Linked DNA regions of Homo sapiens: region 2 is linked to region 1. Evidence: fine-mapped expression QTL. A gene starts in region 1. The other region holds a variant in brackets. All regions are shown on one strand. Distances are from middle to middle. Region 1 holds the start of PDCD6-DT (PDCD6 divergent transcript). Region 2 overlaps SDHA (succinate dehydrogenase complex flavoprotein subunit A).

Region 1 (8,332 bases):
CACTGGGCAGTGGGTGGTCTGGAAATGTAAATGTTTATAGTACTCCATGGAGTACTATATGAGTCATGGAACGATGTTTCATATTGAAAATGTTTTATAAATGTGGGTTTCAAGGTTTTAAAGTGAACCCATGTGTGTGAGGAGAAAGGACACACCAAAGAAGTAAAATAATTGGGTCAATATAAAAAGAAAGTAGAATATTGCCCAGAGAGGAGATGTGGATAATTCCTAACACGGATCAAAGGTGAGCTGTGTCTAAGACAGTCAGACCTGCACCGTCCCGTGCAGTAGACACCGTGGCCGCTGTGTCTGAGATATTCAGACCCTCGCCGTCCCGTGCAGTAGACACGGTGGCCGCTGTCTGTAAGATATTCAGACCCTCGCCGTCCCGTGCAGTAGACACGGTGGCCGCTGTGTCTAAAATATTCAGTCCCGTGCAGTAGACACGGTGGCCGCTGTGTCTAAGATATTCAGACCTGCACCATCCTGAGCAGTAGCCACAGTGGCAAGTAGCCTCTGCACTGGACAGTGCAGCTACAGAATGATGCTATCACTAGAAAGTTCCATCAGCCAGCACTGATGCAGACCTTTGCAAATGCCCCTCACACTGAATAGCACCTAGCTGATAGATTGTCCACTACTCAGTGAAAAGCCTGTGTTAAAAGCAGTATTTGGTAGAAAAGCAAAAAAGGGGAAAAAATTAAAAGTGGTAAGTCATTGTCTTCCTTACTGAATTCTAGCAGAAGAATGTTGGAAGGAAGATGGGAGTCACGGGAGAAAGTATCATTGTCCCAGGACAGGAGGGGGTGCCAGGCATGGTTGGCTCTGTCCCTGGAATTCTATGGCGGGAATCTGGAAAAAGGAAAAGTGACTGGAGAAGAAAAGATTCTGTGTGCAAATGTCATGATGCAGCCATCAGTCATCCTGAGAAAATAAGCGAACAAAGTGGCTTCAGATGGATGCTGTTGGATACATGTACAGATACAATGTACACTTGCATATGCTTGTTCACACAAAGGACAGGATGGTTATCTGTTCATTTAACAAATACTTGTTGAGGGCCTATATGTGCCAAAGACATCAGATGCATAAGAGGGTGCACTATGGAAAGCCTCAGGAACACAAGTGCCCAGAAACATTTAGAAAAATTCTAATGAAAACAGAAAAGGCATTTTCAAATTAGCTGAGAGAAACGAGACCAAAGGAAAGACTGACCCAGTATTTGGATACATTATGTGATGAACCTTAATGCAGGGAGGAAAGTGTTATCTTTCAGTTAATTTCTCAACTTCTGGAGAGCTTAGAACAGACCTGGCTAGGAGGAAATTGAATCTGAGGCAGATGAGGAGATAGTGGTGCCTTGATGCTTCCAGTGATTGGGTCAGCAGAACCAGGGGTGGGAGATGATCTCTCTTTTTGTTGGCAGATGGTGGTCTCTGCTGTAGCTTTGTCCCCTGGTGACGGGACTCAGGCAGCAACCCCCATCATTGGCAATACCCCCACCTCTGAGAATGTGGAGAGGACTTGTGAAGACAATGTTGTCCCAAGCAGCACAGCCCAGGTACTGACAGGATTCAGAGCTAGAGGTTTCTTAGAGGTCAGGGTTGTAGAAGCAGCAGGGACTGCAGCTGCATAGTTTGTGTATGTAACAGGCTAGTATCTCTTGTTCTAGACTCATCCATTTGTACATTCATATGAGTATGCACGCAGGGTGTTTTTTCTTTCTTTTTTTTTTTTTGAGACGGAGTCTCACTCTGTTGCCCAGGCTGGAGTGCCTGGTGCAATCTCGGCTCACTGCAAGCTCCGCCTCCCGGGTTCACGCCATTCTCCTGCCTCAGCCTCCCAAGTAGCTGGGATTACAGGCACCTGCCACCACGTCTGGCTAATTTTTTGTATTTTTAGTAGAGACGAGGTTTCACCATGTTAGCCAGGATGGTCTTGATCCACCCGCCTCAGCCTCCCAAAGTGCTGGAATTACAGCTGTGAGCCACCGCGCCTGGCCAGGGTGTTTTTTCTTTAAACCTTAATTTCATAGTAATTAACCTCCCTTTCAAGAGTCAGCCTTGCTGCCCCTGAGATGATGCAGAAAAAGCACAAAAGGATCTGGGCTTGAATCTCCTCTTACTGCCTGCTTGGCTTTAGGCAAGTTACCTTCTCTGAACTCTAGTTTTCTCTTCAGTAAAATGTGGATATGGTGCCTTGGCATGGGGAGGATTAAACAAAGCCACATATTTAAATATTATAAGGGTGGATTATATTTAAATATTAAAAGGGTGGATTCTAGCTGGTTGCATTCATTAAGTGTGTCCTCTCTTGAATGAAGGCATTTTCTACCCCTAGAACTAAAGGGAAAGCATGACGGAGCACTCCTGGGTGCCATGGGTGATGATGGCTGTGGTACTCCAGGTTGGAGACTCGGCCAACAGTTGGTAGAGCCCAACTAACTGTTGGGAGTGGAGGCTGAGGCCTGCTGCAGTCACTGAGATGCTCCCCCTTTTAAAAAATTTTAAAATAGCCCAAGCTAGTCTTGAAGTTCTGGCCTCAAGTGATCCTCCCACCTCAGCCTCCCAAAGTACTGGGATTATAGACATGAGCCACTGCGTCTAGCACTGAGCTGTTTCTTGCTGAGGTTTCCCTGTAAGAACTTCCAAATTGGGTCACAAAATCATAGTTGTTAGTATTTTCAGAGTTCTGGAGAACAAAACAGGAGCCAGTGATGGGAGGGAGAATAAAGATGGACTTCAGAAACTACAGCTCAAAGAGCTGTGGAAGATTCTAGAAAGGATTCTTCAACAAGTGATATGAATACTTTGTCAATGAAAAGGCTGAACCTCTGTGAAATACTTGAAGAGATTTATTCTGAGCCAAATAGAGTGGCCACGCCCATGACACAGACCTCAGGAGGTGGCTGGGGTGCAACTTGGTTTTATGCATTTTAGAGGGTCGTGAGACATCAATCAAATCTATTCAAGATATACATTGGTTCAGTCCAGAAAGGCAGGACAACTCAAAGTGGGGGCTTCTGGGTTATAGGTAGATTTAAAAATGTTCTGATTGGCAATTAGTTGAGAGTTATTACCAATAGAAAGGAATGTCTGGGTTATAAGAGGTTGTGGAGACCAAAGTTTTATCAGCAGAAGAAGCCTTGGGGTAGCAGGCTTCAGAGAGAATAGATGGTGTTTCTCATTAGACTTAAGGTCTGTGTTGGCTTTCCCTGAATTCCAAAAGGGAGGAGGGCATAGTCAGCCATGTCCCACCCGCCCCCACTTCATGTCGTGGCCTGAACGGTTTTCAGGTTAATTTGGAGTGCCCTGGCCCAGAGAAGGGGTCCATTCAGATGGGGTGGGGCCTTAGAATTTTACTTTTGGTTTACAACTTTATGAAGAGACCATTAGAAACCACTTGAATTCACATCATGAAAAAAAATCCACACTGTAAAAAAGGTTTGTAGATTAACACATTAGGTGAATGCCAAAGCCACAGAATATCTAAATTTCTCTGAGGAATTTGAAAACTCTCAGGTATATGCCTTGTGGACAAGAGAGACAGAAAAATGGGACAGAGGATGAGATAGTTTGGAGAATGGATAGCTGATCAGATCTGTAGCTGTGCCCAGAGTGCTGAATAATGGATTTGCGTCCACAGGGAAGAAAGTCTCAGGTGCCACTGATAAAAGACCACGTCCTTGGCTCTGGGTCCATTCAACATCTTGGTAGACAACTGAGTGAAAATTCAGAGACAACCCTAGGAAGTATGAGGATGAAAAAAGTTAGCATTCATGGAATGAGGCACTGAAGAAACTGAAAAGCTGAAATAACCCCATGAAATAATGAGAATAATTGTAGTATTCTGAACCGGGGCACAGGACACAGGACCGGGGTGGAAGGCGGCACGAGACTACGCGCGTGGGAAAGACCCAGGGATCACAGTGGCCCAAAGCTGGGCACTTCCCAATTCCGGGATTTGTGCTACAGGCACTCCAGGCTCCACCTTAGAACTGTGTCCAGCACGAAGGCAGTGCTGTCTTGCGGGAGGCAGGGCTGCACCACCACCGGGGTGTGAAGGGGCCCAGCAGGCAGGGGTGTGAAGGGGCCCAGCAGTGTTTCCAGCTGCACGGGGTCAGGGGCCGCGCTGATGCAGAGCACGGGGGCGCAGGTTAAACCTAAAGGAGGGAAGCTTTTGGGGGCGGAACAGACAACCGAGAATGCTGCACACTGCCTTTCCCACCCGAATTGTGTTTTGACTTTTTTTTTTTTTTTTTTTTGAGACAGAGTTTTGCACTTGTTGCCCAGGCCTGGAGTGCAATGGCCCGATCTCGGATCACTGCAACCTCCTCCTCCCGGTTTCAAGCAATTCTCCTGCCTCAGCCTCCCGAGTAGCTGGGATTACAGGTGTGCACCATCACGCCCGGTTAGTTTTGTATTTTTAGTAGATACGGGGTGTCTCCCAATTGGCCAAGGCTGGTCTCGAACTCCCGACTTCAGGTAATCCACTGGCCTTGGCCTCCCAAAGTGCTGGGATTACAGGCGTGAGCCACCGCGCCCGGCCTGCTTTTGCTTTCTTTTTTTTTTTTTTTTTTTTGGCAGAGTCTCGCTGTCCACCCCTGTAGTGCAGTGAGCTCGGCTCCCTGCGGCCTTGACCTCCCGGGCTCAGGCAATCCTCCCGCCTCAGCCCACGGAGTAGATGGGACCACAGGAGCCCACCACGCCCGACTACTTTTTGTAATTTTTGTAGGGATGGGGTCTATCCATGCTGCCCAGGCTGGTCCGAACTGCTGGGCTCAAGAGCTCCGCCCGCCTCCGCCTCCCAAAGGGCAGGGATCACAGGTGTGAGCTACCGCGCCCCGCCCAGAGTTTCCGACTGTTAGCAAATCACATTCACCTCAAAACTATTTATACAAGAACTGAAAGGCAAACTAAGTCCGTGCTCCATCACTTCCTGTCCCAGGTCGCGGGGCCGGACATTTTCTCCAAGCGCTTTCCTGGCACAGCGCGCAGGCGGCCTGCGCCAAAGCTCTGGCTTCCTCCAGGCGCCCAGACCCCGCCCTCCCCGCAGGCGCCAGGGCGTTGCCTGGCAACTTAGCTGCGAGGGGATTGGCTGCGCGGGACCCCGTGACCATCCCGGAGACCACGCATTTCCTGCGCCCCCGGAAGTGGTGATAATGCCAGGCCCTGCCCCCGGCAGAGGCGGAAGCGGAGTCGGCCTGAGAGGTCTCTCGTCGCTGCAGGCGCCTCAGCCCAGCCGCGTGCCTTGGCCCATGGCCGCCTACTCTTACCGCCCCGGCCCTGGGGCCGGCCCTGGGCCTGCTGCAGGCGCGGCGCTGCCGGACCAGAGCTTCCTGTGGAACGTTTTCCAGAGGTGCGGCCTGGCACCGCCCGGGCACCTCCCGCCTCCGCCGCGGCGGCCCCGACCCCTGTCCCGACTCCCCCGACCAACCCCGTTCCCTGCCGGTTCTACTGCGGCCTCCTCCGTCCCCTGTCGGGTCCCCCGCGGCCCCCTCCCGTCCCCTGCCGCCGCCCCCGACCCCTGCCCCAGCCGACGCGGCCGCCCCCGTCCCCTGGCGGGTCCCCCGCGGTCTCCCCCGTCCGCTGCCCGGTCTCCTGGGGCCGCCCCTGCCTCCTGCCCGGTCCCTGTCCTGTGCGTCGGGCCCTTCCCAAGATGCAGAGTGCGCCACTGCAGACCCGAGGTCGCGGCCACCGGCTCCTGGGCTAGGCCCTTTTTCTCGCCTCAAGAGCCGCCAGGTGGAGGGTCTCCAGGGTGCTTGTTTGGGGAAAGCGGAAACAGACTGCCTGGGCGCTGTTAAAATGTCAGCAGCCAAGGAAGAAGCAGCGACCTGGCGTCTGCTCGGGCCAGGTGACCTTTATGGCGGCGCCTTCTGTCCCTGGTCGCTTTTCCACCGAATGTCCGAAACTGTAGTGACTGATGGCCAGGGAATGGCTTAGTTATCTGAGGGAATCTTGTCTTGTCTGTGAAAAAGGGAAACGGGTGCAAATGGGAATTCAGACAGGCCAGGAGAGGAAGGAAGGGAAGGATTGAGGTGAAGATGATTGTCCTCTTAGGGGAAGACCACACTGGACGTCGGCTCCTGGGGCACTTCCTTGATTCCGCTGTACTCCTCAGCGGGACGGGAGAGGCGGAGGTTCCAGGAGGGAGCCTTCCAGAGTCGGTGCAGGGTTGACAGAAGACGTTTGTTTTGCTTTTCCTGAACTTTCGATCGCCAGCTTATTTGGTCTTCTTGATGTTATAGGGTCGATAAAGACAGGAGTGGAGTGATATCAGACACCGAGCTTCAGCAAGCTCTCTCCAACGGTGAGTGGGCCAGTGGGAACTGGGTCTCCGGACCAAGAAGCCGCGAGCCTGCCCTGTTCACAGTGGATAACTTTCTGAAGTTGTTTTTCCAAGGACAAAGGAATCATTAGGACAAATTGTTATTACTGCTTCGTAGTGGAGATGCTTCTGGTTTATTTTGTGGCTACCGCTGTTACTGCTTGGAGTGCCTCACCGAGCCAGCTAACAACTGCGTGCGTGAGCACAGGGAAAGGCTTCTTGAGAAATGAAAACTAGATTGTAGGTTTAGGAGGGGAATAGGAAGCTTAGCTCTGTACAGCCGAAAGCCTTTTGGTAAGTTGGAGGTCCTTGAATTTCCTGGGTGACTGCATCTTGGTGACTTCTCTGAATAGACCTTCGAGGGCACTGGGGGGTGATTGTTGGAGGGCTTGGGGAGCTCAGGCAGCCCTTGTATGGGAATGTGGCTGTTACAGGAACTGCAGAAACTGGGACTGGGTTCCTGGGGAAAGGATTGGGGGTGTTGGAGGCGCTGGCCAGGGGATTATGGGGAGGTGTTCTTATCAGTGTGCGAATACTGGGCGTTCAGGCAGCGGGAAATCCGGGTCCTTGCGTGTTGTGAGCTCCCTGGAATTACGTTCTTGCCAGTTTCAGCTCAGTTGATCCCCCTCCCCTCCGCTATCATTGGACACATTTTACTTCATTGAAACCTGACTGCCACTTTTTCTGTAATCCCTCAGGGGCAGTCATCTTTTCTGATTCTGTGTATAGTTTGCTTTTCCAGATCCGTGCCATTTAAGCTAGAAAAGGGGTCAGTTTTGAGATGTTGTGAAAATGTTGAAAGGCTTCTTGTTATTAGTGGGAAGTATCTGAAGTTGCCAGAGACTGAACTGGGGCGCGGGGAGCACTACGGCTGCTAGACACTGCCTCACTGCGCTGTGGGTGGGGGGGTGCTGGATTCAGCCTTACTGCCTAATGATTTGTGAGGATTTGTGTTTTCAGAGTAACATTTTTACCTTATATTACGACATCAGTTCCTAATATGTGGCGTGTGGGCCACAGATGCTGGTGTATTATTTCACATGCATTTCTATAGATTGTTTTCAGGGAATTCAGAAATGCTGTTATCTCTACACTAGTGATTGTGCTTTCTTGGTTTTTCTCTTTTCATTATTCTTAAATCCTCGTTTTTTTTTTTTTTATTTGCATCTCAGTTCGTTTTTACTCGGGAAGTGCAAGACGTGGCTACTAGAAAGAGATGTCAAGAGAACCCGGAATCCAGTAGGCTACAATTTGGCAAATCTCAGCTTAAAACTTCCTAAATGTTGACCACAGTGGATGCAAATGGCTCTGTGCATCACCTGTTAAATATGGTCAGATGACCATCCAGGTTCAAGTGGTTTGTCACCAGGGTGATACAAGCCACACGGAGTGCCCTCCTCAGAGGCCATGTTTCAGAGACATTTATTTTGAGTGGTTTTCCAATGAGTGATGCAAGATTTATGATCCATTTTAACAGCCTGCTTTTTATGCATTTGCTCTAATTTTTAGATTTTAGGTTTAGTTTTAGGTTTTCTGTTAAACTTGCTCAAATAGGAGTGGTGGTCAAATACTGGACCGCATTAGTATGGTAGCCTGCCCACCTTGGCAGGCTCCACTGGAGTGCTTTGGGGCCTGCCTGGATTCCAGTCCTGGCTCTACCAGTTTTGTGTCCTCGCCGTTACTGGGAGGGAGTATTGAGGAAATGCATGCGAGGTGTTTCCGTGATTCCTGGCACGGAGCAAGTGCTCAGTAATTGTCAGCTGTGAGTATTAGTAGTAGCTAATACACTGGTACTATTCTTGGCTAACAAGCCAGCTCAAAGCTTTGATGGTTTTCCATTACCTGATGATGGTGATGATGGTTTCCACTTACTCAACACTCACACGCTGGGCTAGGCACTTAACCCAAATCCAAGGTCAGCATTATTGTTTGGGGGTGGGGGAGACACCTCCTGCTCTGACTTGTGTGTTTGGGTTCCTGTATTTTCACCAGAGGGAGTTAGTCC
Region 2 (8,332 bases), 48 kb before region 1:
CCCGTGGGTGGGGCCGGCGGGGCGGGTGAGACCGCCCGGGTGGGTGCGAGGAGTGGCCGGGCTCGGCCCGGTGGGCGTCCGGTGGGAAGCGTGGCGCGCCCGAGCTTAGGCTTGCAGTTCGCCTTTCCAGAAAGCGCAAATCTGTCCATGTCCACTTCGAGACCTTGTAAGTTAAGGGCTTCTACTTTGGGTCGTGTTTGGTGGTCCTTATGCCACCAAAAATGTGCCAGTGTTTAAAAGCAGCTGTGCCAGTTTTTAAAACTCAGGCGGAGAGCTCAGCGCACTGACCGGGCGAGGACGCCGGGACCTGTGCTTGCCTGTGCGCTGAGTGCCTCTAGGGCCGGGCTCGGCTTAGTCCAGGATGGTGGTCAGGGTTATACTTCCCTGAGCCCTTGCTCTCTGAGTGTCTGAATGTGCCCTCTACGATTGCATCTTAAGAATCGGCCTTCTAGGGTTTTATTTAATCAAGCTAAATTGGATAGGTTTAGTTGTTTGGTTCTTTTAAATGAACTTACCCACCCACCTCCTTAATTACAAAGTAATTTTAAATTGCAGAATAAAAATCTCAATAGGAACCAAGGCATTCAGCAATATTGATTTGAATTATGCCTGTAATTGTGCAATTTTCTCCTTTTTGAAATACTTATTAAAAATCTCGTTGAGTTAAATGTGAGGATTAGTCATACAGCCATCCTGCCAACATCAGAAAGCGTGTAAACCGTTCTAGTGTGTTGCTGTGGTTGGTACTGACTGAGCAGAGACCCCTGCCGCATCTTGGGCTTTTAAGAGCTGCTAGGAGGGCGTCCACAAGCAGGAAGGAAAGCCCATGGTCAGTGGGGCTTTTTAGGGGAAATGGTAGCTTGTGATTGGAGAAAAGCTAGAGCTAGTGCCTTTGTCCTCAACCCAGATGGTGCCCGGTGTTCCTTCTGCAGACTAAGACCCTGCCAGCGGCGGAGGCACCTCAGACGGGATGGCAAGATAGCAAAATTGAACCAAAATTTAGTCTTGGGTTTTGTAAAAGTCTTTTTATCTTGATGAAGTTAGCTTTTCCTACAGAAATTCTGCCTGCAAGCAGCATATTTATCGGCATTTCAGATAGGCTTTTTTTCCTGAAGAATTGGAGTTTACGAAGGAACAGCATAATCAAAAAATTAGCAGAAAAAAGAAAGAAATTCGTGATAGCCAACTGAGAAATGTGTTTGGAAAATAGATGCTGAGGATAATTTCAGTAAAGTCCAGAGAGAATTTTTTAACCTCATTTTGGCCAGTTCTGTGGTGTTTTGATCATTCTGTATTTACAACTGCTTTCAAGTGACGAACTTATCAGACTTATTTTGCTTTTGGTTTCTTTTTATGGCCCAGTGCACTGACACAGCTTGCAAACTGTTCGAAAGCAGTTTAATCAGAGGAAAAAGAAAACCAAGAAACTTCAATAGTTACTGGTTAACTGCTTACTTCAGGTGAAGTTTTTCAAATCCCTTAACATGAACATCCAATATATTGTTCTAGGACAAATTGATTTCTTTTCTTTGAATGGATTGTTCTGAATATGTTTAATGGTGTTCTAGAAATACATTATTTAGGCCATTATAGTAGTAAACCTTTGCTTTGCTTCTTGGGATAATTGTAACAACAATGGCATTCCATTCTGCATTCCTCATGATGTTTTTCCTGATTTATTTGAAAAATTGTGACTTGTTTTTTGATATGAAACCTGGATATTAATATTAGTTGGGAGTCTCAGAGATTTTTCCCAAGGGTCTTTAGATAGGGGGGCAAGTCCAGGATCCAGAGCCAGGCCGGCCGACTTGAATCCTCTCTGAGCTCCGTCTTTCCGTGGGGTTAGTGAGGATTCTGTGGGTAATGTTTGAAACCTTTGGTGATGCTCTTGAGAACCAGGGCTCACAGCCTATGCACAGTAACCATGTGTGAACTGAATTTTTTTTTTTTTTTGAGACAGAGTCTCACTCTGTCACCCAGGCTGGAGTGCAGTGGCGCAATCTCGGCTCACTGCAAGCTCTGCCTCCCGAGTTCACGCCATTCTCCTGCCTCAGCCTCCTGAGTAGCTGGGACTACAGGCACCTGCCATCATGCCCGGCTAATTTTTTTGTGTTTTTAGTAGAGACGGGGTTTCACCATGTTAGCCAGAATGGTCTCCATCTCCTGACCTCGTGATCCGCCCGCCTCGGTCTCCCAAAGGGCTGGGATTACAGGTGTGAGCCACCACGCCCGGCCGAACTGTATTTTAAGTATCCCTGTTTTTAAAATAATAAACACTAAAATTCTAGTGAGAATAATTACACGCAGTTGTAAAAGAATCAATGAGTATACCCTCCCTCACCCAGTTCATTTTCCATGAAAGCAATTCCTGTTTCTGATACTGACTCCTGGCATTTGTAATACCTCTGTTTCTTTAGCGGATATGCAGGTGCATTTTTATCAGTTTTAGACTTCTTGCCTAGAGAGGGGATTTAGTTCACTTAAACTACCCTGCTTCCGCTTCTTCCTGATACAGTCGTGCGTTTTTAGGTTCTTCGTTGGCTGCTTTTGTGATTGTGTAGGTTGTACATGCAGATTAGTTTCTTGCTCGTGATTTATAGGTGCGTTGTATTAGATGAGGACCCCTTACTTTGCTAGATTTCGGATATGAATGTCTCTGCACTTCTTACTTTTCCCCTCCACCTCCTAATTCAGTCATCTGAAATTCTGTATTGTTAAGCAAGGTCTAAGTATTCCTTTTAGTTATATGTTCCCCATTTTTTTTCTTGAGGAAATGTTTGATAGTTTCTCCTAAAAAAATTAACAATTGGCACAAAAGACTAGTTTTGTGTCAAAACTAGTTTTGAGTTTTATCTAAAGACTGAAATTGGCTTAAAGTTGGGCTTTCCAAATTCAAAAATCTGCCCCAGATTAGATTTAGATTGAGAGGGTTAGTGTCCTTTTCGCCAGGGGGATGGCGTGATAATTTGTTCAAGATTGTGTTATAGTAGCTGCCCCTTTTAAGCCAGCTCTGTGTGTGTGTGGTGGGGGGTGGGCAGTGGGTCTTCCACATCAACATCCTAGAAAGAACGAATAAACATTGAGTGATCTCACTGTTTCTACTTACATTTGGTATAATATACTGTTCTTACTGGTGCTATTACTATGTTAATAGGGCACTTTACAACATTTTCAAGAACATTTGTATTAAAATTATTTCAAAGACTTCTTTCTTAAAATATGATTTTACCATGCAAAAATTTTACTAAGGTAGAAGAATATTTGTTCTTTCTCATTCATTTTCTGAAAAAAGAAAAAAGCTGAATTAGCTTATACCAATAAAAACAGAGACTAGAAATTGGAGAAATGAAGAATAATTTTTTATCCCACATAATAAGTAATTTCTGAATTGCAAGTATTTCTAAATACTTGAAGACATTCCTCACATCCCCTCTTCTGATTGCATTTATTTCCTAAAGCTTTTTTTTCTTTTCTTTTTTTTTTTTTTGGAGACGTTGTCTCTCTCTGTTGCCGAGGCCGGAGTGCAGTGGCACAGTCTAGGCTCACTGCAGCCTCTGCCTTCTGGGTTCAAGCGATTCTCCTGCCTCAGCCTCCCAAGTAGCTGGGATTACAGGTGCCCGCCACGACGCCCAGCTAATTGTTAGTAGAGATGGGGTTTTGCCATGTTGGCCAGACTGGTCTTGAACTCCTGACTTCAGGTGATCCACCCACCTTGGCCTCCCCAAATGCTGGGATTACAGGCATGAGCCACCGTGCCCAGCCCCTAAAACTATTCTTGATGATATTTCTGAGACTATTCAGTGGTCTTCTCAAATGTAGCCAGCAGAATGGAAAACGTATCCCCTAAATGGCTGGCCAACCTTAGCATATGGACAGTGTCACCTCTCTCACACAGAGCCACTAAAAACTAAACACCAAAACCAGTTTTCTTGGGTAAAGTTTTCTAAGATGGAAAATTTAAGCAGCAAGATGTGTCAAGTTGTAGATGTTGGCCAGGAAAAAGCCAGCAGCAGCCAGGCAGGGGAGAGTGTGCATCCGACATCCTCCTGTGTGATGAAGGGATGACACCTCGTCCCTCTAGGCTGTCAGCTTTTACTGTTCCAGGATACAGATCTCCTGATTCAATGTTGAGTGCCTTTTGAACTGACCACAAGCCCTCCTGGACGATTGGAACTGTAATGTGGAAAGGGCTATGATGGAGCCAGTTAAAATGCTTCATTACTTGCAAAATACCACATACAGTAATACAATATACACGTCTTTCCCCTTCTCCACTAAGTAGCATACATTAAGACTTCACAGAGGAAGTGTGCCTTTTTCATTTCGTATCTGAGTCAGTGAGTATCCTGTTTGGAAACAAGCTTCATCCTGGTTTTCTAGAGTGCCAAGTCAGGGTGGAAACGAGGACCTGGGGGCTCAGTC[C/T]TTCCTTGCCCCTTGGGCTGCCTTCAGGGTTAAGTAGAGGGTCCCAGCTGAGCTCTCTGGATGCACAGGAGCACCTGGGTACATAAGAAGGTGAACAGTTTGCAAGGGGAAATTACTATCCCCCACAGCATTTGTTCCTTCAGGACACTAACCCTCTGGATCTGTGTCTTCTGTGTCTCCAGTGGCCAACAGTGTTGCAAACAGGAACCCGAGGTTTTCACTTCACTGTTGATGGGAACAAGAGGGCATCTGCTAAAGTTTCAGATTCCGTAAGTTCATGCTTTTTGTTCCATTATAAATGATTTTTTTGGCTTAGGGGGTAAGGATCTATACCAGTTTGTTTTCATATGAGTCATAGACATAAGGGAAAAATTTCTCATAGGTATCCAATGCATGCTGAAATTATTTTCAGTGTAATAATACTTAATTGCAAGTACAAATATAAACATAGATGTTTACATTTTTACTTGTATCTGTTATGTATCTATAAACTAGATTTAAATTTAGATCAAGTAAAGCAATAAATTAAAATAAAATGAACAGTGTCTGCTGTGATAGATGATAAAATTCCTACTGAAAATAGGACGGTGGGGCCAGTGAACAGTATCTGCTGTGATAGATGATAAAATCCTACTGAAAATAGGATGGTGGGGCCCCTCGGGTGTGGGTTGCTTTGTATTTAGTGAGCCTATCTCTGTTGAAAAACTGAAACTTGCTGAGAAGTTGTTTTCTTATAAGCCCACAATAGCGACTGAATACTCCTTGGCACCTTCTCAGGCATAAGCATAGGCACGGCCCTGAAGTAGAGTTGTGGTCCTCAGTCTGACCCCATGGGATAGACCCTCTACCATTCGTAGAATCTGATTGTCAGTCCCTTCTCCAGGTGCGAATGTGCCCACCTCTCCCCGAACTGTTCAGGGCTCAGCCCCAGGACAGGATGGAGGCCCTGTGTGCCCAGCAGTTGCTCCTTTTATCTTTGTCAAGCTCTTTCACTGTCACAAGATTCTTCATGTTTGGCATAGTGGAACATGTGATTGACAGGTGAATTTTTCTTTTCCAGATTTCTGCTCAGTATCCAGTAGTGGATCATGAATTTGATGCAGTGGTGGTAGGCGCTGGAGGGGCAGGCTTGCGAGCTGCATTTGGCCTTTCTGAGGCAGGGTTTAATACAGCATGTGTTACCAAGCTGTTTCCTACCAGGTCACACACTGTTGCAGCACAGGTAAGAGAAAGGTGCCCCACTGTGCTCCCACTCCGTGCAGGTCCCGCGCAGCCTCGCACTTTCTACCTGGGCAGCCCCCTGCCTCCTCCCCCTGCTCCAGCCACATGGCCTCTTGCTGTGCCTTACTCAGCTCACCCTCTCAGGGGTCTCTCCCTGGAGCCTCTTCCCTGGGGACTTTGAAGGGCGGGAGACTTGTTGTCACTCCTAATTCAGACTCCAGTCACACTTGGGTTTTCTCTGACCATCTTGCCTACTACCTTCCCCACCTACCCCCGCCACCCCAACACCTTAAGAAAAGGAGATCACCTAAAGAGGAGGAATCAGAATTTAGGTTGGGGAAGAAAAGGGCAAGGGTTTCATTTGTCCCTGTGCTTCTGTCTTCTGGGACTCTCTGAGGGGTAAGACAGTGGTGGGCACACACAGCCAAAGGAAGCTGGGGTACAGGGGAGTGCGACTCTGAGTGTGGAGTTTATTACTTGGCAGGAAGCACTTCTAGTCTTTAACACATGCCCGTAAATGCCATTGGGAAGATTTGTTAATAAAATTATCTGGAAAGATTTGTTGAGTACCTTTTCTGTGCCAGATAGGTTAGGTTATAAGCATATTACAGGTAGCCTTTCACTCACTGCTCCAGTCAGCCCTTCCTGGAGTTCCCTGTGTCTCCACCACGCAGATGAGGAGACTGAGGCTAAGGATGGAATCACTGGGCGAGTCGGGGAGGGGTTGTGATCTGGAATCTGTCGGGTCTCGCTGCTCCTCTGCTGAGGTCAGCCCTCACTGGGAGTCACTGTGTGAGTAGTTGGCTTTCTCTGAATCCCCCCAGCGGGTGGATTTGGGCCTGGAAGACAAAGTTGGCGCTCCTGTTTGTGGCTTGTAAGGAGTGGTTGGTGTTTCCAGGGAGGAATCAATGCTGCTCTGGGGAACATGGAGGAGGACAACTGGAGGTGGCATTTCTACGACACCGTGAAGGGCTCCGACTGGCTGGGGGACCAGGATGCCATCCACTACATGACGGAGCAGGCCCCCGCCGCCGTGGTCGAGGTGATGGGCGGGAGGCTCTGGGTGTTCTCGTGGTCTGTTTCTAGTACAAAAGAATCCTGGAAAAAAATGTAAGCAATTGAGGCGGATGTGGCAGCCAAAAGAATGGTGATGAGCAAAGTTCACAAGAAGAGTCTTTTTCCGTTATGAACTATGCATTATATGTAACAAGAAAACTTCTCTTTGATGAAGTGTTGACATTTTCATAAAATAGGTTACTTTGGGTTTGCAGATTTGTGTTAAACTTGTTTAGTGTAGATTAGCTGCGAATATCTTGACTCCTTTAAGGTGTTAAGGTTTTTGTTTGTTTTTATCTTTCACAGCTAGAAAATTATGGCATGCCGTTTAGCAGAACTGAAGATGGGAAGATTTATCAGCGTGCATTTGGTGGACAGAGCCTCAAGTTTGGAAAGGGCGGGCAGGCCCATCGGTGCTGCTGTGTGGCTGATCGGACTGGCCACTCGCTATTGCACACCTTATATGGAAGGGTAAGGCCGCCCCCGTCCACCTGAGACAGGACACGTAGTGCTGGGGCTTATGGTGACAGTGGGGAATGGGTTAGCGTGCCCAGTGAGTCAGCCAGAGATTACGTAAAAAGCAACAGAGAACAGCAGCGTGGGGCGCATGCAGCGACTGTGGATGTGACAGGACCAGACGTGTGCCTTGAGGAGCTGTCCCTAAGGCAGTGTGTGACTTCTTGCATCTATGTCAGAAAGTTGAATCGATAATCTTACATACCAGGTTTTAACTTGGGATATGTGACACTCAACATACAAGAGCAGAGCAAGCAGGCCAGGCACAGTGGCTCAGGTCTGTAATCCCAGCACTTTAGGAGGCCAAGGCAGGAGGATCACTTGAGACCAGAAGTTTGAGACCAGCCTGGACAACATAGCAAGACCCTGTCTCTACAAAAAGTTTAAAAATTAGCTGGGCATGGTGGTACATGCTTGTAATCCCAGTTACTCAGGAGGCTGAGGCTCCTGGATCACTTGAGACCAGGAGGTTGAGGCTACAGTGAGCCATGTTCGTACCACTGCACTCCAGCCTGGGCAACAGGAGACCCTGTCTCAAAAAAAGAGAAAGAACAGGCTGGGTGCGGTGGCTCACGCCTGTAATCCCAGCACTTTGTGAGGCCTAGGCGGGCAGATCACAAGGTCAGGAGTTTGAGGCCATCTTGCCTAACACTGTGAAACCCCGTCTCTACTAAAAATACAAAAAAATTAGCCAGGCATGGTGGCAGGCACCTGTAGTCCCAGCTGCTTGGGAGGCTGAGGCAGGAGAATGGCGTGAACCCAGGAGGCGGAACTTGCAGTGAGCCGAGATCGCACCCCTGCACTCCAGCCTGGGCAACAGAATGAGACTCCATCTCAAAAAAAAAAAAAAAAAAAGAACAAGTATTTTAAGTCTCTTTTACCACCTCTGAGTTCCTGAATGGATTGGTTTTGTTTGTTTTGTTTTGTTTTGTTTTTGAGACGGAGTCTCACTCTGTCACCCAGGCTGGAGTGCAGTAGCACAATCTCAGCTCACTGCTACTTCCACCTCCTGGATTCAAGTGATTCTCCTGCCTCAGCCTCCCGAGTAGCTGGGACTACAGGCGCACGCCACCATGCCTGGCTAATTTTTTGTATTTTAGTAGAGACAGGGTTTCCC

The links. PIP is the estimated chance that this variant, and not a neighbour inherited with it, causes the effect.
Region 2: its variant is fine-mapped to the expression of PDCD6-DT in whole blood (INTERVAL, PIP 0.96).

The regions. Positions count from the first base shown.
Region 1 is chr5:266,464-274,795 of GRCh38, forward strand. PDCD6-DT (PDCD6 divergent transcript) reads right to left here and starts at 5,061. Exons shown (of 2, transcript NR_104613.1): 1 at 4,882-5,061; 2 at 3,093-3,744. It overlaps PDCD6 (programmed cell death 6), which reads left to right and starts at 5,183. Exons shown (of 6, transcript NM_013232.4): 1 at 5,183-5,358; 2 at 6,248-6,309. The coding sequence starts at 5,258. It overlaps PDCD6-AHRR (PDCD6-AHRR readthrough (NMD candidate)), which reads left to right and starts at 5,183. Exons shown (of 13, transcript NR_165163.2): 1 at 5,183-5,358; 2 at 6,248-6,309. It also overlaps a transcript of SDHA not described here. RefSeq lists enhancers at 3,532-4,224, 4,886-4,975 and a silencer at 5,266-5,475.
Region 2 is chr5:218,878-227,209 of GRCh38, forward strand. It overlaps SDHA (succinate dehydrogenase complex flavoprotein subunit A), which reads left to right. Exons shown (of 15, transcript NM_004168.4): 2 at 4,605-4,691; 3 at 5,483-5,644; 4 at 6,542-6,685; 5 at 7,006-7,170. Among named protein-coding and RNA genes, the nearest start is that of SDHA, 4.7 kb to the left of the region's middle. RefSeq lists an enhancer at 1-261 and a silencer at 1-53. The variant C/T (reference allele first, on the strand shown) is at 4,423.